Linked DNA regions of Homo sapiens: region 2 is linked to region 1. Evidence: fine-mapped expression QTL. A gene starts in region 1. The other region holds a variant in brackets. All regions are shown on one strand. Distances are from middle to middle. Region 1 holds the start of FAM171B (family with sequence similarity 171 member B). Region 2 overlaps ITGAV (integrin subunit alpha V).

The links. PIP is the estimated chance that this variant, and not a neighbour inherited with it, causes the effect.
Region 2: its variant is fine-mapped to the expression of FAM171B in sigmoid colon (GTEx, PIP above 0.99). The same link has a PIP of 0.9 or more in esophagus mucosa, esophagus muscle, sun-exposed skin and unexposed skin.

What each region holds. Positions count from the first base shown.
Region 1 is chr2:186,690,043-186,698,996 of GRCh38, reverse strand. It overlaps FAM171B (family with sequence similarity 171 member B), which reads right to left and starts at 4,937. Exons shown (of 8, transcript NM_177454.4): 1 at 4,586-4,937. The coding sequence starts at 4,823. RefSeq lists a silencer at 4,774-5,133.
Region 2 is chr2:186,664,576-186,673,529 of GRCh38, reverse strand. ITGAV (integrin subunit alpha V) reads right to left here. Exons shown (of 30, transcript NM_002210.5): 20 at 8,889-8,954; 21 at 8,312-8,404; 22 at 6,747-6,826; 23 at 6,300-6,380; 24 at 5,754-5,859; 25 at 4,610-4,768; 26 at 3,716-3,829. Among named protein-coding and RNA genes, the nearest start is that of FAM171B, 25 kb to the left of the region's middle. The variant A/C (reference allele first, on the strand shown) is at 4,074.

The DNA.
Region 1 (8,954 bases):
TACACAATGGAGTACTATTCAACCATTAACAAGGATCAGATCCTCTCATTTGCAACAACATGAATGGAACAGGAGGACATTAAGTAAAATAAGCCAGGCACAGACAAACTTTGCATATTCTCACTCATTTGTGGGAACTAAAATGTAAAACCATTAAACTCACGGAGATAGAGATTAGAATGATGGTTACCAGAGTCTGGGAAGGGTATTGGGAGTGGGGAAGAAGTGGGGATGGTCAATGAGTATAAAAATATAGTCAGGTAGAACGAATAAGATCTACTACTTGATAGCACAACAGGGTAAATATAGTAAACAATAACTTATTGTACATTTTAACATAACTGAAAGTATAACTGGAATGTTTGTAACACAAATGATAAATGTTTACCCTGATGTGATAATTATACATTTTATGCCTGTATCAAAATATCTCATGTAGCCCATAAATATATACACCTACTGTGTTCCCATAAAAATTAAAAATTAAAAACAAATCCCACGTAGTGGAAACAGGTAGAAGTATGGGTGAAAAAACAATGGCAGAATTTTGACCATTGTTAAAGCTAGGTGACAGGTATAGGCTTTTATTACACTATCCTGTTTACTTTCTATATATTTAACATCTTGCGAAATAAAAAGTTTAAAAATAGATATCACTGAAATATGCAATCAAAAATTTTCACACCATGAAAATATACCTCTCAAGAAGCTTTCTCTGTACTGAAAAGACATTTCTATGATCCCTGGAGATCCCCTGTGTCTCTGCTTCACATGGAGAATTTTAAATGGAGCTCATTATTTTTCTCCAGCTCCTCTCTCCCCCAACCCCAGCATGCCTCCCATCTAATGGGCCATCAGAATTAATATAATATGGTTGTCCCAACTACCACTAGCTCCCAGATTAATTCTTCTCAGGACCCTCAAATATTTCTAACAAATACTGGTACAGATGGAGAAATAAGAGCTGTTGTATACACTGGAGAAAACAATTGATTTGATGGATACCAACCTTAGTCTTTATTTTCACTGCTCTCTGAAGATGGAGTTTTTATAAGTTAATGAGAAAATGGAAATGTACTTTTTTAAATCCTGATTTTTAAAAAATGTTCACATTCAAGTTTTTTTTTAATCTTGCTTTCTTGTTTCTCAGCAATACAAAGAGACATAAATTTTTAGAATAATAAAATCCAGAGAATACTAAGCAAAGGCAATGGTGAGTTTCTCTACTATGGACTGATAAGGCTTAGTCATATATCAGTCATTGAATGTGTCATATTTGTTTTCTAAATTTTGCCTGAGAAAAGTCCTACAGTTTTTCATGTGGCATGTCCAAAGAATCAGAAGCATCATACAGCGGTAAAGAATGAATGCAAGCTCAATCACAGCTATTTAAAGGTATATATGTTAAAATCCTCCTAGGTCATAAGAAGATTAAGTATACTCAGGTAAAGAATTATGGTTCATGCTTGTAAACCAACATTTTGGGAGGCTGAGATGGGAGGATTGCTTGAGCCCAGAGTTCCAGAGTTTGAGGCTAGCCTGAGCAACAAAGCAGGACCCTATCTCTACAAAAAGAAAAAAATTAAAAATTAGCTGGGCCCAGCGGCACGCATCTGTAGTTCAGCTATTCAGGAGGCTGTGCCCAGGAGGTTGAGACTGACTTGAGCCATGATCACGCCACTGCACTCAACCCTGTCTCAAAAAAAACCCCAAATTCTTCACAAAACCCAATAAGTAGGCCCAAGTATAGGTATCAATCAGTTTTCTGTAGTCAGCATAAGATAAACACTGAAATTAACTAAAATTAAAGATCCAAAATTTACATACTTTATAACTTCTACTTACAAACTTTCCTACATAACGTTTATCTTTATAAATCCCCTGCTAAACTCCAATGGAGAATTTATCCAATGAAGACGAACAAATGCTGAGAAAGTGAATTCATTCATTCATTCATCCATCCATCCATCCATCCATCCATCCATCCATCCGTCCATCCATTCAACAAATGGTTGAATGTCTATGGGTACCAACCAGGTGCTCTTCGAGATACTAGAAATATAGCAGTGAACAAAACAAAGTCCATGTTTTCACAGAGCTTATGTTCTATCAAGGGAAAAACAGGCTTATTAGAACAGCTGAGAATAATGAGTACCATGGAGGAGAATGAATCTGGGTAAGAGCAAAAAGGATGTGCAGATTACTATTTTAAACACCTGGTCAGGAAAAGGTCTGTCAGTTACTGAGACACTTGAGCAAACCTGAAAAATGTGAAGTTCCAGAATTCCAGGCAGAGAAAATGGCAAGTGCAAAGGCCAAACACTTGGGTCCACTTGCAAGCTAAAGAAAATAGAGCTAGTGTGGCTACAGTGGAGAGAGTTAGGGTAAGGGCTAAAGGAGACGGGAGGAAAAGGAGGATACAAAGGATCTAGACCTTGGTAGGCCATTTTCACGATCTGGGCATCTAGTATGAGAGAGACGGGAAGCCATTGGAGGAGTGTGGGCAGAAATGATCCTATTTAATGTTTTTTTTTTTTTTAAAGATCGCTAGCTGTGTGAGGAGAACAGACAGTAGGGAAACAAAGGTTGAAACAGGAAGACCAGTTCAATGGAGAGATCACAATGCATTCAAAGGAATATTTTAACTTCATTTGTCTATAAGCTGTGTTGCATTATAAGACTCAATATTCCAATAACTAAAACAGCAATCAATTGAATTACTCCCTTGTTTGCCACTGGCTTGGGTAATTAGAGTTTTTGAGGAAGAAGAATCATCATAGGTTACTTCTCAGGTTCTAGTTTGATCTATCGAAGAGTGTGGTTCCTTTATCTCAATCTAATAGGTAAATAAAACAAAAACTGCTAATTTCCCAGACAATCAGCTTTTTCAGAATATTCCCTCACAAATATCAGAAAGCAAACATTTTAATTTGCATGCTGGATTCAGGTTTCATATTATTGCAGTAGTTCATAACCCTAATCACAACATATATATATATATTACAGTAGTCAAAATTCATTTAATATTCCTGAAAGGTCCATTGAAATAAAAATATACTGCAAACCATAAAACCCACCAACACTCTCCCAGACTTCGGCTTCATAGTGAATTTATGAAATATCTCTATTAATGAGGCCAATCAATCTGATATATCCAATTTCCTTAACTTTAGCGAACAGTATGTCTAACAGCAGCCTCACCCAAACCATATTATCACTTTCAGTTATTAAAAGCTGGGTAGGAAAACCACCATACACTGTATACCTTTCAAGACTTTTAGCCACACTTGAGTGTTATTAATTGGTTTAAGAGGGTGTCAGAAACACATGCTTTCCTGCACACTTTGGTGATTTCATCCTATGCTCAGAGCACTCTGATAAATTAAATCATCCTGGCTGTGTCATGAATCGCAGCTGGCATGCCTGTGTACTGCTTTTTGACGATGAGCAAGCAATACAAAATGTGATGCTGATTCCACTCTTTCAAATCTCATTTTCAGCACTCATATAGTGTTACCAGGCAGGATTTTAAAACAAAAACAAACGTCATAATAAAATTCACTTTGGTTTCACAAAACCTAAGCCCTCGTGCCAGAAAATTGGAGGCTTTTTTTCTTTCCAAATAGCAGACAAGAATCTACAGCCATGAAGCGAAGTGGGTTGCGGGGTAGGGAGATGCAATATACATGGATAATCTAGCTATTTGCTTACCGATGGAGCTTTAATGGGGGGAAAGAGGGAGGAACTGCGGAACTGTTACAGCCACCTATACTACAGCCGTATTTCTACACCTTCACTGAACAGTGTCAAGAATCTGCCTCATTTAAGTTCTACTAACAAGTAAGGAGATTTCTCTCTCTAGGGATAGGCTTTTGCTGTTCTAACACCACTCCAGACTTCACCTTATGTGTCCCCCTCTCCTTTTCCCTTTCCTTCAATTACAAACTCCTGTTTTGTTTTGCTTCATCTTATTGTACTAAAAGAGTTCTTTGCAATAAGATGAACCCTTAAACCCTTCCTGGGGTAAAGAGAAAGAGAAATAAATAATAAAATATATAAAGATTTCTCTCTTCATGGCTAAATTTAAATATAGCAGGCATGGAGAAATGGTGAAAAGGGGTGTGTGGGTGTCCATGGCAAGATTTCTCAGTCTCTAGGAGAGAAAAGGATAGAGAACAAAATGTTTAAGGGATTTAAGAACGGTGTGTGTGTGTGTGTGTGTGTGTGTGTGTGTGTGTGTGTGTGTGTTACAGTCATTCCCAGGGCAGAGGGTAGAATTCAGGAAGAAGGGAGGGAAAAGAAAAAGATCAATCCAGGCAGTCACCCACCCCCAGCCTTCCCGACCCCTCTCCAACCCACCGCAGTGCTCTGAGCTGCTCAGAAAGCTCATTACCCGGAGGGCAGATTCCCGACACCAGATCAAGGGACCAAAGGCTGGGCAGCCAGTCTGGGGAGAGAGATCGGGAGGGATGGTGACAGGAACGAACGAGGATAGGAATGGATAGGGAAGGGGCGAGGAAGCCGGCGAGGCCCTAAGAGATCGCCGGCCGAGACTGAAAGACCGGGCTGGGCAGCCAGGACCTACCTGGAACCGTCAAGGTGGAGGTTGCCCCAGGCACCTCTGTCCTCTCCTCCTCAGCCTCCTCCAGCTGCTTTTGCTGTTGTTGTTGTTGTTGCTGCTGCTGCTGCTGCTGTTGGATGAGGCTGAGGTCGGAGCGGCTGAGTTCCGCTCTGGCGGCCGCGGGGACCAGCCGCGCTTTCAGCAGCACCACGGCCAGGCCGAGAAGCAGGGTGCAGGGGACACGCCGGCAGAGCCTCGCCATGGCCTAGAGCCAGAGGGCCGCGGCGGCATATTGCGGGGCTCCGGGCGGCGGCGGGCGCCAGGGCTGCGGGCTCCTGGCAGCGCCCGCTCGCTCGCTCCCCCTCGCGCAATCTGCCAAGCACTCCCTCACCGGCAGGAGGAAGAGGCCCGGGAGGCGGAGGGGGCGGAGGAGGAGGGAAGGGGAGTTCGCATCCTCGCGCATGTGACGCGCGGGGAGGGGCGAGCCGGGGCCCGCGGTCCCGCGCCCCGCAGCCACCTGGGGCCAGGCTGCTCCGAGAGGACGCGATGCTGGGGCTGCAGCCCGGGTGGAGGGCCCTAGGGGAAACAGAAAGGGGAGGCCTTCTGGGAGCTGGTAGACCCTCACAGCGTCCACTTCCCACTGAGGCACCGGGAAGATTTGCAGAGAGTGGAATAAAATTCCTTCCACCTGAGCCCAAAGTAGCAGAGAAGGTGGTATATTGATTACCCCCATCCAGCACATAGCGTGGGTGGCACCAACGGATCAAAAAGCCAGGATCTCAAACAAATAGGCTTTGCTGCATCACCGCCATCATTGCTTAGCTAGAAGTTAAACTGCAGCGCGCCAGATTTTGACTAAACTTCTTTTCTCTGCCCTAGTGGGAATTTCTTTCCATATCATTAAATATTCTTAATTACATTTTATCTAATTCTAGCCTATCCTTTTCATTTGTTCAAAAAAATCTTACTAAATACTAGTTGCTTACCATGTGCCAGCATTTCTTCAGGTGCTTGGAATAAGTAAAATACAATCCCTGCATTCCAGGAGCTCAACATCTATTAGGGGAGAGGAACACAGGAACAAATTAGAACCCAATGTGGTGGCTACAAACAGAAAAGCAATACAAGTCCAGAGGTCTCAGAATTGGAAGAAAATATCTTGTGTATGTAGGGGCTATGAAACACCAGGAGAGGTAGAATATAAAAAAGAGTAAGACTTCCACACAGGAGAAATCAGGAACGTGGAAGAGTGTGTGTGTGTGTGTGTGTGTGTGTGTGTGTGTGTGTGTGAAGCCCAGATGTGTGTAAGCACAGTGGGCTTGCAAAAGTGTGAGCAATTATTCTAATGGAGGAATGACAGTGTTTTAGATTGAAAAGGAGAGTGGAGACCAGGTCATTAAAAAAATAATAATAACAAGCATTTCTATAGTACTTACTGTGTGCTCAAGTACTTCACATTTGTTAACTTCTGTAATAAACTTAGATGCTGTATACAGAAATTGAAATTCACACAGTAGATGATAATGAAAGAAATTAATCAGGGAAGAAACTTGCTACCAGTTGTGCATTTTAGGAGGATCACTTTGCTCTCAGTATGGCAGATGGATTAAAGGGGGATAAATTGGAAGAGAAGATGCCAGTTTAGAGGTGTTTGCCAAAACCCATAGGAGATGCCAAAGGTCATTGAAACTGAAAAGGAGAAGAAAAGAGTAGGAGACACAGTATATAAGACTACAATAAACAGATACGGTTAATTGGAAGAGGAGGAGATATGCCTAGTGTGACACCTAAATTGACAAATTGAGATCTTAGGTGGCTGCTTATGACCTTATCAACATTAACTGGCCTAGAGTAATGAGCCCTGCCTTGTTCAGTTGTGGTCTCTTTGTATTTGGAGTAACTGTGGGACATCTCATAGTGCAATATAAATGTCACCTGCTGTGACATCACCCCATTTACCATTGTAGTTCATTGTCCTTTTCCACCCTTATCATTCTTACCTTGTCCCTCCCAGTGTTTTCAATATGCTGGAAAACAACAAACTTCTCAGTACTGGAAAAGTATTTTTTGGTTAAGCAAATGAAAATAGTGTATATATAACTAATGGTTTAGATGTTTTGTCCTTTCCAAATCTCATATTGAAATGTGACCTCCAATGTTGGAGGTGGGGCCTAGTGGAAGGTCTTTGGTTCATAGAGGAGAATCCCTCATGAATGGCTTGGTGCCCTCTTCATGGTAATGACTGAATTCTTGCTCTGAGCTCACAAGAGATCTGGTTGTTTAAAAGTGTGGCAACTCCCTTCTCTCTCTCGCTTGCTCCCTCTCCTGTCATGTGACACGCTGTCTCCCTTTCACCATCCACCATGATTGTAAGCTTTCTAAGGTCTCACCAGAGCAGATGCCAGCACCACACTTGCGTTGTACAGCCAGCAGAACTGACCTAAAGTAAACCGCTTTTCTTTATGTCACCCGAAGTTTACTGCAATGCAAATGGACTGACACAATAACCATAAATAAAATAACAGTAGGTATTTTGCATCTATTATCTCATTATATCTTCAGAGCATCTCTACAAATTAGCTCTCATTATCCTATTTAGCAAATGGAAACACTGGAGATCAGAGAGGCTCCATGTCTTGCCAGAGGCTACATTTACAGTGTGTGACTTTACCTTTCTGCACCGTTTGAGACTTCTGCTATGAGTTTGTATTGCTTTTTTAGTGATTTTAAAACAAAAATAAGGTATGTGGACCACATAATTTTGGGGAAAATAGATACTAAAGTGAGGCCCCTCACACTAAACATCATTCTTCCATCAGGACTTTCTTTCCCTGGTCTGTGTGAGGCAGGAGCCATTGGGGGAGGGGGCTCCAGAGCTGAAGGCAGCAAGTTTCCATTAGTTTCATCAAGCTGTTTTTATGGCAATCTCTTCCAAGTTACCTCTGCTCCTGGAGAGAAGAAAGGAGAAAATGGAAATGGCTCCAAAAACCTGACTGGTGGATCAGAAGGAAAGGAATGCAGCCAGGATTTCTGTCATCCTGCCTTGGGGTAGCCAAGTTATTTTTAATATAGTAGAAGCAGACCTTCTGGAGGCAAAGCCACTGGGTCATGGACCCTGGTAGAGGGTGGACCTCAAATCTTTCAATACTATGGACTGTTTTAAGAGGTAAGTGTTGTCAATCAAGAGTATTTAAATAGTTTTTAAGTGCTTCATTATTCGTGTAGTTCATGCTTAATTTCTGTGCAATATAAAAAAGCCATATTATCCGATTCAATTGGGGATAGTACTTGGCAAATGAAAAAAGTTCATCAAAAGACCAAAGTCAATACATCCTAAATATATCTTAAGCCACATATTTTACCCTAGAATAAATAAATATATATTTGTTCACAAATCTTTTGATGTAGGGCCAAGAATTTCAACCACATCCTAGAGTTTGAAGTCATAAACCACAGTTATGATATACCACTATGATTTGCAGGTTTAGTTTAAGTGGAAGTTCTCAAAGACCCTTGCCACACAATTAGAGTGCCAAGTCATTCTATGTTCAATTTTTTTCCCAAGCTTGTAGAATTTTCTCATATACTTAGTATTAAACTTATATTTTATTTTATTTTATTTTTTGAAACAGAGTCTCGCTCTTGTCTTCCAGGCTAGAGTGCAATGGAAAAATCTTGGCTCACTGCAACCTCCACCTCCTGGGTTCAAGCGATTCTCCTGCCTCAGCCTCCTGAGTAGCTGGGATTACTGGTGCATGCCACCACGCCTGGCTAATTTTTGTATTTTTAGTAGAGACAGGGTTTCGCCATGTTGGCCAGACTGGTCTTGAACTCCTGACCTCAGGTGATCGCCCGCCTCAGCCTCCGAAAATGCTGGGATTACAGGCGTGAGCCACCACACCTGGCCTAAACTTAGTTTTAATAGGAAAAATTTACTTATCTCAAATCCATATTGTATATATTCCTTATCACACATATAACTGGCAAAAAAGAAAAAGTTTGTGAAAAATATAACTGACTTTTGGCACAGGCACAACCAAATGACAGGAGTAAACATAGGCAGACATTCAGGAAGATGTAAGCTGATAACTACATTTGCCCTAAATGTTTGTCTGTGTGTTTTACAAAGGAATGAAAAATGCCAGTTAATCCAGCAAGTTATTTTCAGGTACATAGTCCATGATAAAGTTTATGCTAAACACAATGTAATCGTTAAGGTTAGAAATTCATCATTTTTAGAAAAATGCCCCAAGAGCCATCAGAAAGCAAAGCACAATACTATACACATATAATTCTTCCCCACTTAAAACCTACTGGTACCTCCTCATTACTCTTAGCACAAATCCAAAATTCCTAACATGATTTACAAAGCCGTTTGCAATATGTCCCCTGA
Region 2 (8,954 bases), 25 kb after region 1:
TTCATGAACTGAACTATGTAATGTTAAGATAGCAATACTCCCTAGGTTGCTCAAGAAAATTGCTACCAAAATTCCAACTACCTTGTCTGCAGAAATGGACAAGCTGATCCTAAAATCCACATGGAATCGCAAGGGACTCTAACCAAAATAATCTTAAAAGGAATAAAATGTATTCATATTTCCCTATTTCAAAACCTGAACTCCAGAGCTATGGTAATCAAAACAATTTGTTACTTGTATTAAGGATATACATATAGGTCAACTGAATAGAACTGAATGTCTAGAAATAAATCCATATATTTATAATCAATTCATCTCCAACAAGACTGCCAAGACCATTTAAGGGGAAAGAATAATTTCTTCAACAAATGTTGCTCAGACAGGTGGATAGCCACACACAAAAGAATCAATCTGGACCCCTACCTCACACCATACACATAAATTAACCCAAAATGAATCAGGGATGTAAATGTAAGAGCTGTAAGTGTAAAACTTATAAAACCAAAAAGCCTAGGTATGAATCTTCATGACCTTGTATTGGGCAATGGTTTTAAAAATATGATGACAAAATTACAAGCAACAAAAGAAGACATAGATAAATTGAACTTCAGATTTAAAAATTTTTGTGCATTAAAGGACACCATCAAGAAAGTAAAAAGACAGTTCACACAGAATGAGACAAAACCTGTGCAATCATATATCTAATGAAGGTAGTATCCAGAATATATAAATAACTCTTTGCAACTCAACAATAAAAGGCAAATAACCCAATTTAAAAATGGGCAAAAAATTTGAATAGACATTTGTCTAAAAAAGATACACAACTGAAAAGATGCTGAATATCATCAGTCTACAGGGAAATGCATATCAAAACCACAATGAGTTACTTCTTCACACCAACCAGGATGATTATAAAAATTTTAAAACAAACAAAAGCAGAAAATAATAAGTGTTGACAAAGATGTGGAGAAAATAGGACCCTCATATATTGCTGGTTGGGATTGCAAAATGCTGCAGCAACTTTGGAAAATAGTTTGGCAGTTCCTCCAAAAGTTAAACATAGAGTTTCCACATGACCTAGCAATTGCACTCTTATGTTTATTCTCAATAAAACTGAAAAACATGTTTACATGGAAATTTATGCATCAATGTTCATAGCAACACATTCAAAACAGACAAAAAGTAGAAATAATCGAAATGTTGATCAACTGATAAATAGATAAACAAAAGGTGGTATGTCCACACAATGGAGTATTATTCAGGCATAAAAATGAAGTACTGGCTGGGCATGGTAGTTCACGCCTGTAATCCCAACACTTTGGGAGGCCGAGGCGGGCGGATCACGAGGTCAGGAGATCAAGCATCCTGGCTAACATGGTGAAACCCCGTCTCTACTAAAAACACAAAAAAATTAGCCGGGTGTGGTGGTGGGTGCCTGTAGTCCCAGCTACTCGGGAGGCTGAGGCAGGAGAATGGCGTGAACCCGGGAGGTGGAGCTTGCAGTGATCCGAGATTTCGCCACTGGACTCCAGCCTGGGTGACAGAGCGAGACTCTGTCTCAAAAAAAGAAAAAAAAAAAAAAAAGGAGTACTAAGGCACACCACAACATAGATCTTGAAAACATGCTACATGAAAGAAGGCTAGACACAAAAGGCCATATGTTGTATGATACTATATGTATGAAATGTCCAGAATAGGCAAATCAGTAGGAATGCAGATTAGTGGTCACCAGGGGCTGGTGATAGGGGAGAATGGATAAACTGCTTAATGGGTACAGCATTTCTTTTTGGGGTGACAAAAATGTTTACAATTATAGTGGTAATGGTGGTTCAATGTTGTAATTATACTAAAAAACACTAAATTATGCACTTTAAAATCATTAAAATGGTTAATTTTGTGTAAGTTTTGTCTCAATTAAAGAAAACAGATTCTGAAGGAGGACAGAAAGTGCAAGATCAAAAGTGGGGTTGGGAGGTAGAAGGCAGTTTCTATTTCACATGGGTTGGTCAGGGAAGATCTCTGACATAATTTTACTTTTAAGGACATGAGAAGGATATGGGAAAATAAGCCACAAGGATATCTGGACAAAGAATTCCAGGCAGATGGAAGAGCAATTTTCAAAGCATGGAGGAATAAACATGCTTGGGGCTATCTGTTCAATGAAAGCAAGGTGGAAAATTTGAGAAAGAGAATAGTAAGGAGAGGAGATGCAAGCAGAGAGGCAGGAAGGGCCTGTTGATGTTGGGCTTAAAGGTCATTGTAGCCTCTTGCTTTCTCATTGAGTTAGATGGGAAGGCACTGGAGTGACACAACCTGACCTATATTTAAAAGGATCACTGGGGCTTCTATAGCATACAAAGTATAGTGGGGAGAAAGGCAGAAATACAGAGGCCAACCAGGGGTCTGGCAATAGTCCAATCGAGAAGGGAAAGGAGCCTGGGTTAGGTTGTGTTAGTGATGAAACTGGTGAGAAGGGGCCAGATTCTAGGTATTTTGAAAGAAAATACTGATGCAATTTGCTGAAATACAAGACGTGAGATTTGAGAGAAAGAGAGGAGTCAAGCATGAGGTCCAGGTGTTAGAGAATGAAGTTGGTATTTACTAAAATCAACTAAGAACTTTATGGAAAGAGCAGACTTGGGAAAACCCAAGGGTATATATTTAGAATTGTTTGAGATTCCTATTAGATATTTAAAAGCAGTTTCTAGTAGGCAGTTGGATATTGGAATCTGAAGTTCAATGCAGAAGATCAGACTGGAAATATAAATCAAAGCATCTACACCACATGGTATTTACAGCCATGAGAGTCAACAGAAGGAAGTGATTAAGTGAACCAAAGCCACTAGGCAATTGAATGGTTGAGGACTAACAAGAACCACAGAATTTGGTGATGTAAAAGTAACTAGTGATCACTATTGAACATAAACAGTGCTGGGCATGGTGGTTCATGCCTGTCATCCCAGCACTTTAGGAGGCTGAGGTGGGCAGATCGCTTGAGCTCAGGAATTTGAGACCAGCCTGGGCAACATGGTGAAACCTCATCTCAACAAAAAATACAAAACTTAGCTGGGCATGGGGGAGAGCGCCTATAGTCCTAGCTACTTGGGGGACTGATAGGGGAGGATTGCTTGAGCCTGGGAGGTCAAGGCCTCAGTGAGCTGTGTTTGTGTCATTGCACTCCAGCCTGGGTGACAAAGTGAGGCTCTGTGTCAAAAAACAAACAAACAAACAAACAAAAAACACTATACCAGGTTCTCTACTAGAGATCTGGAGATTTGTTAATTAAAAGAAAAAAGAAAAACAATTGCCTTTAAAAACATTATAGCCATTATATAGGCTAACTCAACAAAGGTTAATCAAGTGCTAATTATTATTCCAATGTATTTTTGTTGGGACCTTCTGGATTTTTTAGTATCGTACTAAAGCCTCAGAGATTAGGAGGAGGCCCAGAAAGAGGACAGTTAAAGAACTAGAGTAGGAGAATCAAAGTTGGGACATAAACTAGTTTTATTAGCCATCTACAAAAATAGCTCATTTGAAGAAAATATGGCATTAATCTGACTAGGAAAAAGGAAAGTGAGAGGAATGCATGGTATAAAAATAAATGTAGTTGTTCAAGCACAGCTGTTGTTATTTTTGAAATGTTCTTTGGCGTCAGTTCTATAGTCACATATTTTTAAATGTCTATGGTGCACATATTTGAAATGGCACTTACCAAAGTGTGAATATCTCCTTCACTGAGGGCAAGATCCCGCTTAGTGATGAGATGGTCCCGCTCACCTTGCCCGGCAACCGTGTCATTCTTTTCAGTTGTTTGCAAAGATGAGATCTAATGCAATCACATTAATAAAATGGTGGTAAATGATAATGAAAAACATTTTACATCAGCATTTTGATATAAACTCTTAGATATGATTAAAAAATAGTGAATGAAAATTTAGTATGACAGAATATTTACCACTCAGTATATAGTGAGCAGTAAGGACAGAAAATAAAGATTAGAGTCTTTAATATGTACCAAAAAAGTTAGCTCTCCCTAACCATTATTTTCAGCCCTTGCTTAGCTAGAGTGG[A/C]AACTGATGAAACATACAGAAATGGCCTGAAATTCCACAGTACATTTGTGATGTCAATCATGGGTATATCTTTTATTTTGTTTCTTCACCTTTCCTTAGATCATATTGTGTAATAGTTTCTAGTGCAAATCTATGATGGAGATGACTATATCCAAAAGTCAAGATAATCATGAGTAAAATGGTATAGCTTATCCCAAAGGTAGAAATTTTAACAACAAAACACCCTTGATGTGATATTATGCCCTGAAGAAACAACAACGTGATGGAGCCAAGGTCAAACTGAGTCACTGAAGGACACATCTCATGAGGCTCAGTAAGCACTCTATGAAGATGTGGTTCACTAGACATCACAGAATCAATTCTTACCCATTATACAAATGAACTTATCCTAAGTGTACTGCTTATGAACTAAACCATTTTTTGCAGAGTGGGTTTTATATTAAAATAGTTGTTTTATTTTATGAATTTCTTTTACAGGTTTAGAAAGAAGGCAATGAAATATCATTGTAATGAAGAGCTGCTATTAAGCATATTACCTTAATTCTCAAAGGGTTGATCTCCATATCTGAAGTGCAGTTCATTGGTCCATCAATATCATAATGAAGGATATACAACAGAGTGTTATTATTATATTTGTAAGGCCACTGAAGATGGAGCATTGCCTTGCTGAATGAACTTGGACCATTGTTTCTCAGCTAAGGAGAAAAAAGAAAATGTATCTACACCTTGGGCAAAAATCTGTTCCATAATCCTTCCCCTACATCAACTTTAGAAATCATGTTAGCAATAGGTTTTAAATAACAGCAATTTCCACAGTTAACCTCTAATTACAATGTGACCATTTTTATGCAAAAATGATCAAACTCAACATTTGTCTCTAACACAGAGTAATATGTGTCAGGATAAAAATATAAACAAGGTTGGGCACAGTGGCTCATGCCTGTAATCCCAGCACTTTGGGAGGCCGAGGCGGGCGGATCTCTTGAGGTCAGGAGTTCATGTCCAGCCTGGCCAACGTGGTGAAACCTGTCGGTGAAACCCTGTCCCTACTAAAAATACAAAAATTAGCCGGGCATGGTGGTGCACACGTGTAATCCCAGCTACTCAGCAAGCTGAGGCAGGAGAATCGCTTGAACCCGGGAGGTGGAGTTTGCAGTGAGCTGAGATCGCGCCACTGCACTCCAGCCTGGGCGACAGAGCAAGACTTCACCTCAAAAAAAAAAAAAAAAAAAAAAAAAAATATATATATATATATATATATATATATATATGTATGTATGTATAAACAAAAGGCAAAATATTTAAAAGTTATTAATGAAGGATGACAAAGAAAATTTCTTCCTATAGAAATAGTTTTGATTATTTGCCATAGGTATTTTCAATTTTTAGCCAGAACTACAAAATGCCCATGAGAAAGTACCAATGACATTTCTTTATTCAAGTAGAACTAATTTATTTTAAACAACAAATTATATAAACTGCTTTATTTAAACAAGTCTATTTGTCAAATAAAAATGAATTTATGTATAGGGAAAATATTCAAAGAAATCTCTGACACATACTTAACCAATGTAGAGTTTACATAAAAATTACATAGAATTTTTTTTTTAAAGTAGCTTAGTTGTTCCTCTCTTCGTTGGCTTGCTCACGAGGTTTGAGTAAAATCTAACAACTGCAAACCTCATAGATGTGCTGAACAACTGGCCCAACATCTTCTTCAGTCTCAGGGTTCTCCTTGTGCTCCCAGTTTGGAATCGGAAGAAAGACATGATCAGGACTCGAGACTCTAAACAATGACCAAAGAAAACCTACCATGAATATCAAAATGATATAGTCAGTTCATTTTCAAAAGTACCCCATATTCATTACTCAAATAAATAAAATTAGATTTAATTTTAAAAAATACTTTAAAAGAAAACTAATGAACACACACATGCACAAAAACTGCTCTTATGAAATGTACACGTAACAGGTGAATTGACAATTTGTGTAAAAGTTCAACAAAATTATTTTGTGCATGTTGTTGCCATGTCTTGTTCCTTTTGAGGATCACCCAGTATTGGGGGTTTGGAACATACCTAGGATTTTATTTCTACAGAAGCTAATGCCCTAGTAAAACCACCACTAAACATGCAGGGTCTATTGTCCAGAAAAGGCTAAGGCCTGACAGTTACCTTTAAAAAGCAATCATGAGAATGAGATACTCAACTAAGTATTCATACTGACCCTCTTATCTCAACTGCAGCTAAAACAGCAAGATCAACTTTGTGAGATACAACTGGGCTTACTTTGTCAAATAGATTTGAGCTGAAAAAGAAAAAAAAAAACTTAAAAATGAATTATGCATAACAACCAAGAACATACAGAGGCAAACCCAGTGAAACTAAAAATTAACAAACGAAACAAGTGTAAAGCTTATACCTCAAAATAGTTATTTTCATTAACACTTAATTCCAAGAAGATGAACATTTTCTTTCTGGATTTTAAATTTTGTTTTACAAACTCAAATCTGACAATAAAATTATTCTTATAATGTAAATATTGATTTTAAAATGCTATAGTCAAGCAATAAAATTTAATCTGCTACTTTATATTTAAAGTATATTACATAGTATATTTACAACAAATAATATTTATTTGATAGTTATAAGTGAATATAAGTTGTTTTCATACCTTTGGATTTGTAAGTCAAATTTCACAGAAGTATCCATCTCTGACTGCTGGTGCACACTGAAACGAAGACCAGCTAAGAGCTAAAGGAGAGAGGAAAAGATAGTAATGCTAGTCAATGTCTAATTAGCAAAATTTCAAATCCAATGTCTAAATAAAAAATAATGTTCTAAAATGGGGTTTTTCTGAGCTTACAATAAAACTGAACAAAGATAACTAAATCTTATTTTCTATCAAACCTATTTTACTTAATATACCTGGACCAATCCATAAGAGAGCCTATTTAACAACAATTATTAATCATAATTATACCTCCTTATAATACTAACCATCTTTCTAAAAAGTGCAAAAGTAAATGTTTGTTGATCCAGTGAAAGTCTAGCAACTGGGTACAATAATTTGATAACACGAAGCTAACCACCAAAGTATGTGCTGTGTTCATAGGCCAGGAAAGAAGAAATGGATGGTTTACTAGAGTAAGGGAACATGGCTAAAGAAGGCATGAGTAGGGCCACAACCAGAATTTCTCCACACACCTCTCATAACACTCCCAACACCAAATATCCTAATTCCTGCAGGCAGAAAATTGGTAGATTTTAAATAAAACAATTGAACCACCAGGTACAAAAAAGAAGGCTTCTTGGGGATCACACAAATGACATATAAAAACAGTACTTCCTGGGTTCTGCCTCCCACTCCACAAAACCTGGAGCTGGCTACTTGTAATAAGCAGAAACTATATAATAACCAGAAAGTTAGAGAGAATGAGAATATGAGAAAATAAAAGGCATGCTCATTGTTAATAAAACATTGAATACACGTGAAAAACTGAACTTAGGGTAATTTGTTCAAGTTCTCATCCCTAAGATACCATACATCTAGAAATACTAATGACTTGTAATAGAAAACATACTAAAGAAATATGGAATATTTAGACCTGTATTACCACAGATCTTCAAAGTACCAGTATCAATAAGTCATTAAATAAATTCTATTGAAAAAGTCACACAGCATATGCTGCCATTTTGTCCTTGCTACTAGAAATTCTACAAGGTATATTTTGTTTACTTTTTAGAGGATTCGGAAAGCAAGCCATTGGCTGCTTCTTTTCAAGCTCCTGGGCACCCTGCTCCACCATCTGAAGGGGAGCCTGATTTAACTGACCTTCACTTTGATCCTCTGTGTGGGGCCTGTGATGGAATCTAGCTCACCTAGGATTGACAGTCTTGGTAGTTGCCAGAGTAGCTTTTCAGGATCCATTAAGGCATCAGTGTAAAATAGCAAAAATTATTATTTCAGTCCTTAGTTTAAACCACGTTCTCATCCATTCACTAAAGTGAAGGAGGCATAAAGAGCAGCTGATTGCAAACCGTGTAGGAGCACAACCAATTGTTTTCGTATCTTAGTTAAAACTAAGCAAAACTCTGCTAATCATTTAACTATTATATCGAAACCAATTTAAGGACATTGTTTTGAAGTGTTTATTTTTAAAAATTACTATGAGCCCAGACAACAATATGCTTTTCTATTTGCCAGGGAGAAAAATCCGTTTAATTAAATTGTCTTACTTGAGTTCCAGCCTTCATTGGGTTTCCAAGGTCACATACCACCTGGCGAGTTTGGTTTTCTGTCTTAAATGCACAGGAAAGTCTTGCTAAGGCCTTTGATAGACCAAAAAAAAAAAAAAAAATGGATATGAAAGGAAATAAAGTATCACGCAGTTGGATATTTCAGTTTCTTGTCCTAAGCAAATAAATCTAGTTGAGCAAACCAGGAGGTAAGGAAAAAGCCAGAATTGGGTACAATTGCCACATGGAAATGCAGAAGTGTTTCTGAAAGATCCCTAGAGGACTACCATACAAAACCATACAGCCTCTGACAAATAATTTGATGGACAGGCTTAGACACTTTATCTATCTAACCTTGTTTCCAGGCACTTAGCTTGCAATTCTAAAAATGTCATATCAATGCATTATGCAAAGTATTAGGCTTAAAAGGAATTATGTAAGATAGGCACTCCATTGTCTATCAATTTAGCCTTAGGTAGAATAGCTAAGCTTGTGCTTCACTAAATAGGGGAACAGCTCATTAATGTTAATAAGATCCGTGAGTGCATTTCAATTTTTAAAGAGGCAGCCTGCTTACTTCATTGTTTCGGACAACCCCGATGAAATCAGCCTGCAGTGGAATGGAAACGATGAGCTCAGCTTC